Regions from separate parts of the Homo sapiens genome. Here regions 2 and 3 are each linked to region 1. Evidence: fine-mapped expression QTL. A gene starts in region 1. Each other region holds a variant in brackets. All regions are shown on one strand. Distances are from middle to middle.

Region 1 (2,761 bases):
AGACTTCTCTGATAGCACCGGCTCAGAGCTGGATTGTGTATCTCTAGGCCCTGAGTTGAGTGCCAGCTGGGATACAGGAAGCAAGAACTGCCCACCAACATTAGTGACAAGCCACTCCCTGACTCCATTCAGCCCAGTACATACTTACTGAGAACCAATTGAAAAAAGAATTCAGGCATCACTACTGGAATACCTACTGCTGTGTACCAGATGCTTTACATACATGATCTCATTTACTCCATGTAACAACTCTGGAAAGGGTTACTTATTCCTTTTTATCAGCTAAGGAGAGAGGCTCACAGGGGTTATTGATCCAGGGTCACATATCACCCGGGGTAGTCTGCTGTAAAGCCTATCTGCTGTGTCCTGCTCCATTACAACACAAGGGAAAGTATATCTAATGAGAGATGAAAACTAAAGGTCCAAGAGTCACGCAAGATTTAGAGAGTGCACATGGGAAGGTGGCCATCAGAAATGTCTTCACAGAGGTCAAGGCAACGAATAAAATGGAAAAAACAAGTAGAAAGATCTTGAAGAGATGTCCTTCTTGGTATAGCACTGGATGCATCAATGCATGCTAGGAAAGAAACACGGTGGGGTTGGGGGATCCTTAGATATCCCTCTTGGGGTGGAGACCATGTCTCCAGTCTTCTCTTGGTTTTCTCTCACTGGTCAGTGAGGAGGGGGAGAGAAGTACATACTGTTGTTGTCCCTAGAAGTGCAGGAGTGAAAACACACCCCACCCCTCCTTCCATGACAGAGTAGAGAGGATCTGTTTCTCCCCTTTCCTCTCCCTCGCCTTGGAGTAAGGAGGCTGCCTTCCTCCCTAGAAGAGGTATTTCTTTTTTGTCTCACCATAGGGTGTGTGTGTGTGTGTGTGTGTGTGTGTGTGTGTGTGTGCGCGCGCGCGCGCGCGTGTGTGTGTGTGTGTGTTAGTAACAGCGGATTATTCCCTTCCCCCTCTTCTGGGGGCTGGGGAGATGACATCTTTCTCCCCAGCGTTGGGAAAGGAGGTGGTTCTTTTCCTCCTCACTACAGGGTGTTCGTGCTTGTGTGCGTGTGTGCGCGCGTGATTGGGATGACTCCTTTCGTTCTCACCTCCGCATAGGGAGGCTGACACCTCTTATCCTTCCAAAAGGAGTGGGGTCGGTTTCCTTCGCCTCCATTTCAGCTGGGACACGGCTCTTTTTCTCTCCAACCAAAAAGATGGTGGGGCCTCTGGTTCCTTTTCCTTCCCCTGGGGAGAAGGCCTGGCTCCCACGCCCTCCCCGCATAGTCACGCTCAGGTTGCTGGAGGCCTGGGTCGCCCCCTCCTGCAAGCCCCGAGAGTCGCCAGACGCGCGGCTAGGTGCCCTCCGTGAGCGGGGCGGGGCCGCCTCTGCGGCGCGGGGCGGGGGCTATCTCTGGCCCCGCCCCTGCCCCGCCCGCTCCCTCTCCGCGAGCCTCGCGCCGCGCGGGTTGCCTGGCCCAGACCGCCGCTGCTGTCTGCGGGGTCTGGTGCCGGGGCCTGAGTCTCTGCTGGCTAAGCCGCCGCCTCAGCCGCCTCAGTCGCCTCAATCTCGCCTTCCGCCCTCGCTCTCCCTCCGCGCCACCAGACCCCGTAGCCCCGCGCGCCCCCAGCCCTTTAAGCCAGATGATGAACTTCCTGCGGCGCCGGCTGTCGGACAGCAGCTTCATCGCCAACCTGCCCAACGGCTACATGACCGACCTGCAGCGGCCCGAGCCCCAGCAGCCGCCGCCGCCGCCGCCCCCCGGTCCGGGCGCCGCCTCGGCCTCGGCGGCGCCCCCGACCGCCTCGCCGGGCCCGGAGCGGAGGCCGCCGCCCGCCTCGGCGCCCGCGCCGCAGCCCGCGCCGACGCCGTCGGTGGGCAGCAGCTTCTTCAGCTCGCTGTCCCAAGCCGTGAAGCAGACGGCCGCCTCGGCTGGCCTGGTGGACGCGCCCGCTCCCGCGCCCGCAGCCGCCAGGAAGGCCAAGGTGCTGCTGGTGGTCGACGAGCCGCACGCCGACTGGTAGGTGCCGGGCGCCGCCGCCCTCGGGGGTCGGGGTCCGCCGGCAGCCGCAGGCCAGGAGAGGACGGTCCCAGGTCGCCGAGGAAACGTTTCAGACCAATAAAAAGGAGGGTCCCCGAGGTCCCGCTGGGAGGAGGTGCGGGCTGAGCGCGCGCGCGTTTGCGGGGTGAGGGAGGGCATCCATCAGCCCGGAAAGGCGAACCCAAAGCTAAAATACCCCTCAATTGCCCCAGGTCCCCCAGGTCCCATACAAGAAGGAGCTACTTTATGCAACAGGAAAGGCCCTTAGGAAATAGTTTTTTTGGGGGTAGAGGAGGGGACACACTTGTTAGCTTAGACACATAAAATCTGAAGTGAAATAGTCCCAGGAGGCCGAAGGAACATTTAGGGCCAGTAAAAAAGGTTTAACTTCATGAAGCACGGAGTGAATTTGGAATGGAAATTGGTATTTTGGAGGGAGAAGGTGGTGGTGGGTTTTTTTTAACCAGGACCCATGAAGGCTGATATCAAGTATTGACATCAGGTTGATGAAATCACACATGTAGTGGCCCAGGTGTACACGGGCTTGTTCCCCGGAGCATGGCTGAAGTCTCTTTATGAATAATAAAATTGTTGTATTTTGTGCAGCAGGGAGGGGACGTGTGGAATTTTTTTTTTTTTTTTTTGATTGCTTGTTTTTCTGAAATGTGCGTGGTGGGGGGCGGGGCGTGGAAGTGAATGGTAGCTTTTTCTAGCTGAAAGATGAAGACCT
Region 2 (2,761 bases), 260 kb after region 1:
ACACTTTAAACAGGTGCATTATATAACATGTGCATTGTGTCTCAGTAAAGCTGATGTTTAAAAAATAGCTCAATCATAATTCCTCACTCAGGTGTGGGTTAGGAATATCACTTCCTTTCAAAGAGTACAGTATGGAAAGGGGGGGAAAATAATAATAACTTTATCATGGAGAAAGCTGACAAACACCCCCTCAGCCAGGTGGTCAAGGTTGACATGATGTGATGAGGACAGTGCTTAACTCTGTGGTCTCCCTCCCGCAAACCCACAACCCCAGTCGAACCGTGAGAGACACCAGACAAACCCCAACTGAAGGACTTTCTATAACATACCCAACCAGTCCTCTGCAAAACTGTCAAGGTCGTCAAGAACCAAGAAAGCCTAAGAAACTCACAACCAAGAGGAGTCCAAGGCGACAGGATGGCTAAGTGAAACGCGGCACCCTGGATGGGATCCTGGGACAGAAACAGGACGCGAGGGAAATACTGGGGACATCTGAATGAAACATGGGCTCTAATAATAATCTATGACAACATGGGCCCATTAATTGTGGCAAACGTATCATACGAATGTGAAATATTAATAACGGGAAACTGGGATTTGCCTAACTTCTTTGTGTCTCTTTCCTCGTCTCCGAAGTAGGGGTATTAATGGTACCCACATCAGTGGTTTGTGGGGTGTAAGTGATTTAAGCCATTATATAATGTTGAACAGTGCCTGACAGTAAGCGCTCAATACATGTTAGCTACCATTCCTATAGTTATTCATCATTTCAGACATTTTGTTTTAAAATGAGAGACGTTAAGAAAAAATCTACTTAGTGCAACCATAAAGCTGACTGTTTTAAAAGAGGTTCAGAAGTGCTGCCCTTGCCTGATGTTTATTAAGTAAACACTTTTTTCAGAGGGAGGTGATAGAGAATTGAATACATAGGTACCTTTTTCTCTTAAGCCATCTACTTTTAAGATAAAGTTGGAAGGAAGTGGAATAAAGTATGTACACCCAAGGGCTAAAATGTAAAGGGAATACTTTATATACTGCATAAGGGAGGAGAAATAGCAAGGAAACTGTAAATAGTTAGTCCCCAAATTAAAAACACCCAGCTCGGCCGGGCACGGTGGCT[C/T]ACGCCTATAATCCCAGCACTTTGGGAGGCCGAGGCGGGCAGATCACGAGGTCAGGAGATCGAGACCATCCTGGTTAACACGGTGAAACGCCGTCTCTACTAAAAATACAAAAAAATTAGCCGGGCGTGGTGGCGGGAGCCTGTAGTCCCAGCTACTCGGGAGGCTGAGGCAGGAGAATGGCGTGAACCTGCGAGGCGGAGCTTGCAGTGAGCCGAGATCATGCCACTGCCCTCCAGCCTGGGTGACACAGCTAGACTCCGTCTCAAAAAAAAAAAAAAAAAAACACCCAGCTCACAAATATCGCACATGTATATATACACACACAAATATTATGAATATAGTCAATTACAAAATACACAGTGCCTGGTTAAATTTGAATTGCAGATAAACAGCAAGTACTTTTTTTAGTATAAATTTGTCTCAAATATGGCATGGGATGTACACTAAACAATGATTTGTTTATCCAAAATTCAAATTTAACTAGGCATCCTGTATTTTTATTTGCTAAAGTTGGCAACCCTGCTGAAAGAGCATTATGCATTTCAGGTGTCGTGCGGTGGCTCAGGCCTATAATCCCAACACTTTGGGAGGCCGAGGCAGGCAGATCATTTGAGGTCAGGAGTTCGAGGCCAACCTGGCCAGCATGGCAAAACCCCATCTCTACTAAAAATACAAAAATTAGCTGGGCATGGTGGTGGGCAGCTGTAATCCCAGCTACTGAGGAACCTGAGTTACGAGAATCACTTGAACCCAGGAGGCAGAGGCTGCAGTGAGCCGAGATTGTGCCACTGCACTCTAGCCTGGGACAGAGTGAGACTCCGTCTCAAACAAAAATACAAATGATCATTATGCATTTCAATGTTTATTATGTTTTCTTTCTAAGATAATCATGAGGCAGGGCGTGGTGGCTCACACCTGTAATCCCAGCACTTTGAGACGCCAAGGAGGGCGGATGGCTTAAGTCCAGGAGTTCACGACCAGCCTGGGCAACATGGTGAAACCTCATCTCTACAAAAAATACAAAATAAATAAATAAATAAAATACAAAAATTAGCCGTGTGTGGTGGCACATACCTGAAGTCCCAGCTACTTGGGAAGCTGAGGTGGGAGGATCACCTGAACCCGGGAGGCAGAGGCTGCAGTGAGCCACTGCACTCCAGCTTGGGTGACAGAGTGAGACCTTGCCTCAAAAAAAAAAAGATAATCATAAGAAACTTAGAAAACTGATCAGAAGTCCCTCTGAATGTCTCATGCATTTGCTAAGCAGTAATTCTGTAAGCTGCAGTGATGCTGCTGTGTTTCCGTCAAAGGTCACCAACTTGTTGGAAAAAAAATTAGAAGTTGCAACAATGATATCTTTAAAGAAATTAATTTATCAAATCACCTTTTCTATTTAAATTCAAGAATAAAAATGTTTTCTATTATAGTTTCGAGGTTTCAGTGAGAAAAAAGGAGAAAATGTTAGTGAATGAAAGAGAAGCAGAGAAGAACAGCAGATGTGGAGATGCAGGGAGGCATGAGACAGAGACAGAGAAAGGCAGACGGGAATGAGTGGGGAGCGAACAGAGGAGAGAGAAGGACAAAGGCAGCCAGGCACAGGAGGCTCTGGGGTGAACTGCTGTGCAGAGGCTGTGGTCTCA
Region 3 (2,761 bases), 170 kb after region 1:
TATCTGCTTTCTTCTCCACCATCAATTTCTCTTTTTCCAAAAGATTATTGGAAAGTTGTTTTAGCCACCGTCTCCCTTTTACCACATTTTCTCTCCTATCCTCTCTAGTCAGCATCCCGCTCCAACCATCCCACTGAAATGGCCCTTGTCAAAGTCACCTCCATGAGGCCAGACGCAGTGACTCACGCCTGTAATCCCAGCACTTTAGGAGGCCGAGGCAGGTAGATCACGAGGTCAGGAGTTCGAGACCAGCCTGGCCAATATGGTGAAACCCCGTCTCTACTAAAAATACAAAAATTAGCTGGGCATGGTGGCAGGTGTCTGTAATCCCAGCTACTTGGGAGGCCGAGGCAGGAGAATCACCTGAACCCGGGAAGCAGAGGTTGCAGTGAGCCGAGATCGTACCAGTGCACCTGGGTGACAGAGCAGGACTGTGTCTCAAAAAGAAAAAGTCATCTCCATGTCACTGAGTCCAGTGGTCACTTTTGTTCTTATCTTACAGACTTTTCAGTAGCATTTGACACAGCTGACTACTCCCTCCTCTAAACACTATTTTCTAGGCCCCTGAGGCCCCCCCGCCCATCGCTTGGTTTTCATTCTACATCATTGGCTTCCCCTTCTTGGCCTCCTTTGCTGATTCTTCCACTTCTGCTGAGTGTCTAAACATCAGTGCCCCAGAACTTGGTCAACGTACATTTGTTGGTGGTCTTGGCCAGCCTGTATCTATCTCCTGCCCTGACCACCCCTTCAAACTCCAGACTCACATTTCTAACTCTTGCTTGACATCCTTACTTTGCATATCTTAAAGGCACCCTAAATATAACACAGCCAAAGCAGAACTCTAGTTTTTCCCCTTAGTCCTGTCCCCCCAACATTGTTTTTCCCTAGCAATTTATGTAGGCCCCTACCTGCCTCTTTCCCTTGTACTATCCTAACTGTTGCTCACTGTGCCCTAGCCACACTGGTAAGGGCCTTTGTATTAGGCTGTGCTCTCTCTCTGAAATGCTCTTTCTTCTTAGTTTTGCATTTTTTTTGAGACAGAGTCTTGCTCTGTCACCAGGCTGGAGTGTGGTGGTGCATCTCAGCTCACTGCCACCACCGCCTCCCGGGTTCAAGCGATTCCCCTGCCTCAGCTTCCCGAATAGCTGGGATTACAGGCACGCGCCACCACGCCCGGCTAATTTTTTGTATTTTAGTAGAGACGGGATTTCACCATGTTGGCCAAGATGGTCTCGATCTCCTGACCTCATGATCCGCCCACCTTGGCCTCCCAAAATGTTGGGATTACAGGCATGAGCCACCGCGCCCAGCCATAACTGACTTTTCCTTAACAGTATAACTGATACTTCCTCAACTATCCAATCCAAAGCTGCCACCTACTCACTGGCTACCACCTCTCCCTTCTTTAATTTTCTGCATAGCACTCACTATCAGTTGAGATTATTCTTGTCTATTTAATTGTCTGTTCTACTAAAATGTAAGGTTCTCAAGAGTACAGACTTGTTTATGGCTATATCTCTAGGGCCACTGTATCTAGCACCTAGTAGCC[AT/A]TTAAATACATCAAGGGTGTACCAAGGGGAGACAGGTGAGAGTGGTTTGCCCAGGTGCAATCAGTTGGCTATAGAAAATTTTTAAAATAGCAAAACTAAGTTGGCCTGCTTTTTATTATCAACATATGATAGCAATTCTATACAAATGACATTGATAAAATACTCTTCCCACCAAGCAAACCACTCCTGCCCCACTCCCTTTGATGTGCCATTGTAATACATATTTGTTGAGTGAGTTCACCATTTGGAAGAGGCATCTTTAATAGCCCTATCAGCCTATTGGATTGATGTCAGGATCCTTTGGATGATCTTGGCAGTGTGCAAGTGGAAAGGATGTGAACCGAGGAACATTACCTGCATCCAAGCCAGGACTTTGCATAGCCAGCTCAGCCCTTAGGTGTTGTCACTGACTTGCTCACAGGCATTGTCACCATTCCTCACAGGCACCTCTTGCTGGCCTCTTTCTTCTGTGGCTGTGGAAGCTCAGGCTGAAAGAGCTTCTGGTCTGAGTCATAAGCCCTAGGAGCTGCTCCTGCCCAGAATTCTAGACCAAGACCAGGACAGACCTGTGGCTAGCCACTTGTCTACCCTTCTCTGTTTCTCCTTCTCTATCGTTGTCCTTAGCTCCACCATGAGTGCTTTCATTTATTTGATTCTAGAGGAACACCTAAAATGGGGACAGGGAGCTGGGGCTTGGGGTGAGGATGGTGATTAGAGGGCACACCTTACCTCTAGCCTGGGATGGATTAATTATAGAACGCAAAGAGCAAAGACATGGTGGTGGGCCCAAGCCAGCTGCAGTACACATTTCAAAGGAATAGAGGAAGGGGCATAAGAAGCACTGGCCATGTCACCAAGAGCAGGGAGGTGAGTGGTAAAGCCTGATCTGGTTGATGACAGCTTGGCCTCAGGCCTGGACAGACTGCCAGCTTGCGGGCTGCTGTGAGGGTCAGCAGCAGCAACTGACCCTCTGTACATGGACTCTGAAATGCTTTAGGGAGACTGTTCTCGAGGTGGCAGTGACACCTGGTGGTCACTCATGGCCAAAGCCTCCAGGCTCTATACCTGCAGAGTCTCTTCCCTGTACCACTGCCTTCCCACCACCCCTCCTACACATTCACTGACTTTAGGGGTCTCTTGTCTAGGATCTGAGCTGGGCCTTGCATCCTAGGGCTCTGATGAGGTGTGGGCTGCTCCTCAGACTCCCAGGA

What was found.
Region 2: its variant is fine-mapped to the expression of SYN2 in whole blood (TOPMed, PIP above 0.99).
Region 3: its variant is fine-mapped to the expression of SYN2 in whole blood (TOPMed, PIP 0.99).

Annotation. Positions count from the first base shown.
Region 1 is chr3:12,002,919-12,005,679 of GRCh38, forward strand. SYN2 (synapsin II) reads left to right here and starts at 1,470. Exons shown (of 13, transcript NM_133625.6): 1 at 1,470-2,010. The coding sequence starts at 1,634. RefSeq lists an enhancer at 2,169-2,669.
Region 2 is chr3:12,260,332-12,263,092 of GRCh38, forward strand. No RefSeq gene overlaps it. Among named protein-coding and RNA genes, the nearest start is that of PPARG, 27 kb to the right of the region's middle. The variant C/T (reference allele first, on the strand shown) is at 1,121.
Region 3 is chr3:12,173,468-12,176,228 of GRCh38, forward strand. The region is part of intron 10 of SYN2 (synapsin II); the gene reads left to right. Among named protein-coding and RNA genes, the nearest start is that of TIMP4, 16 kb to the left of the region's middle. RefSeq lists a silencer at 2,551-2,630. The variant AT/A (reference allele first, on the strand shown) is at 1,550.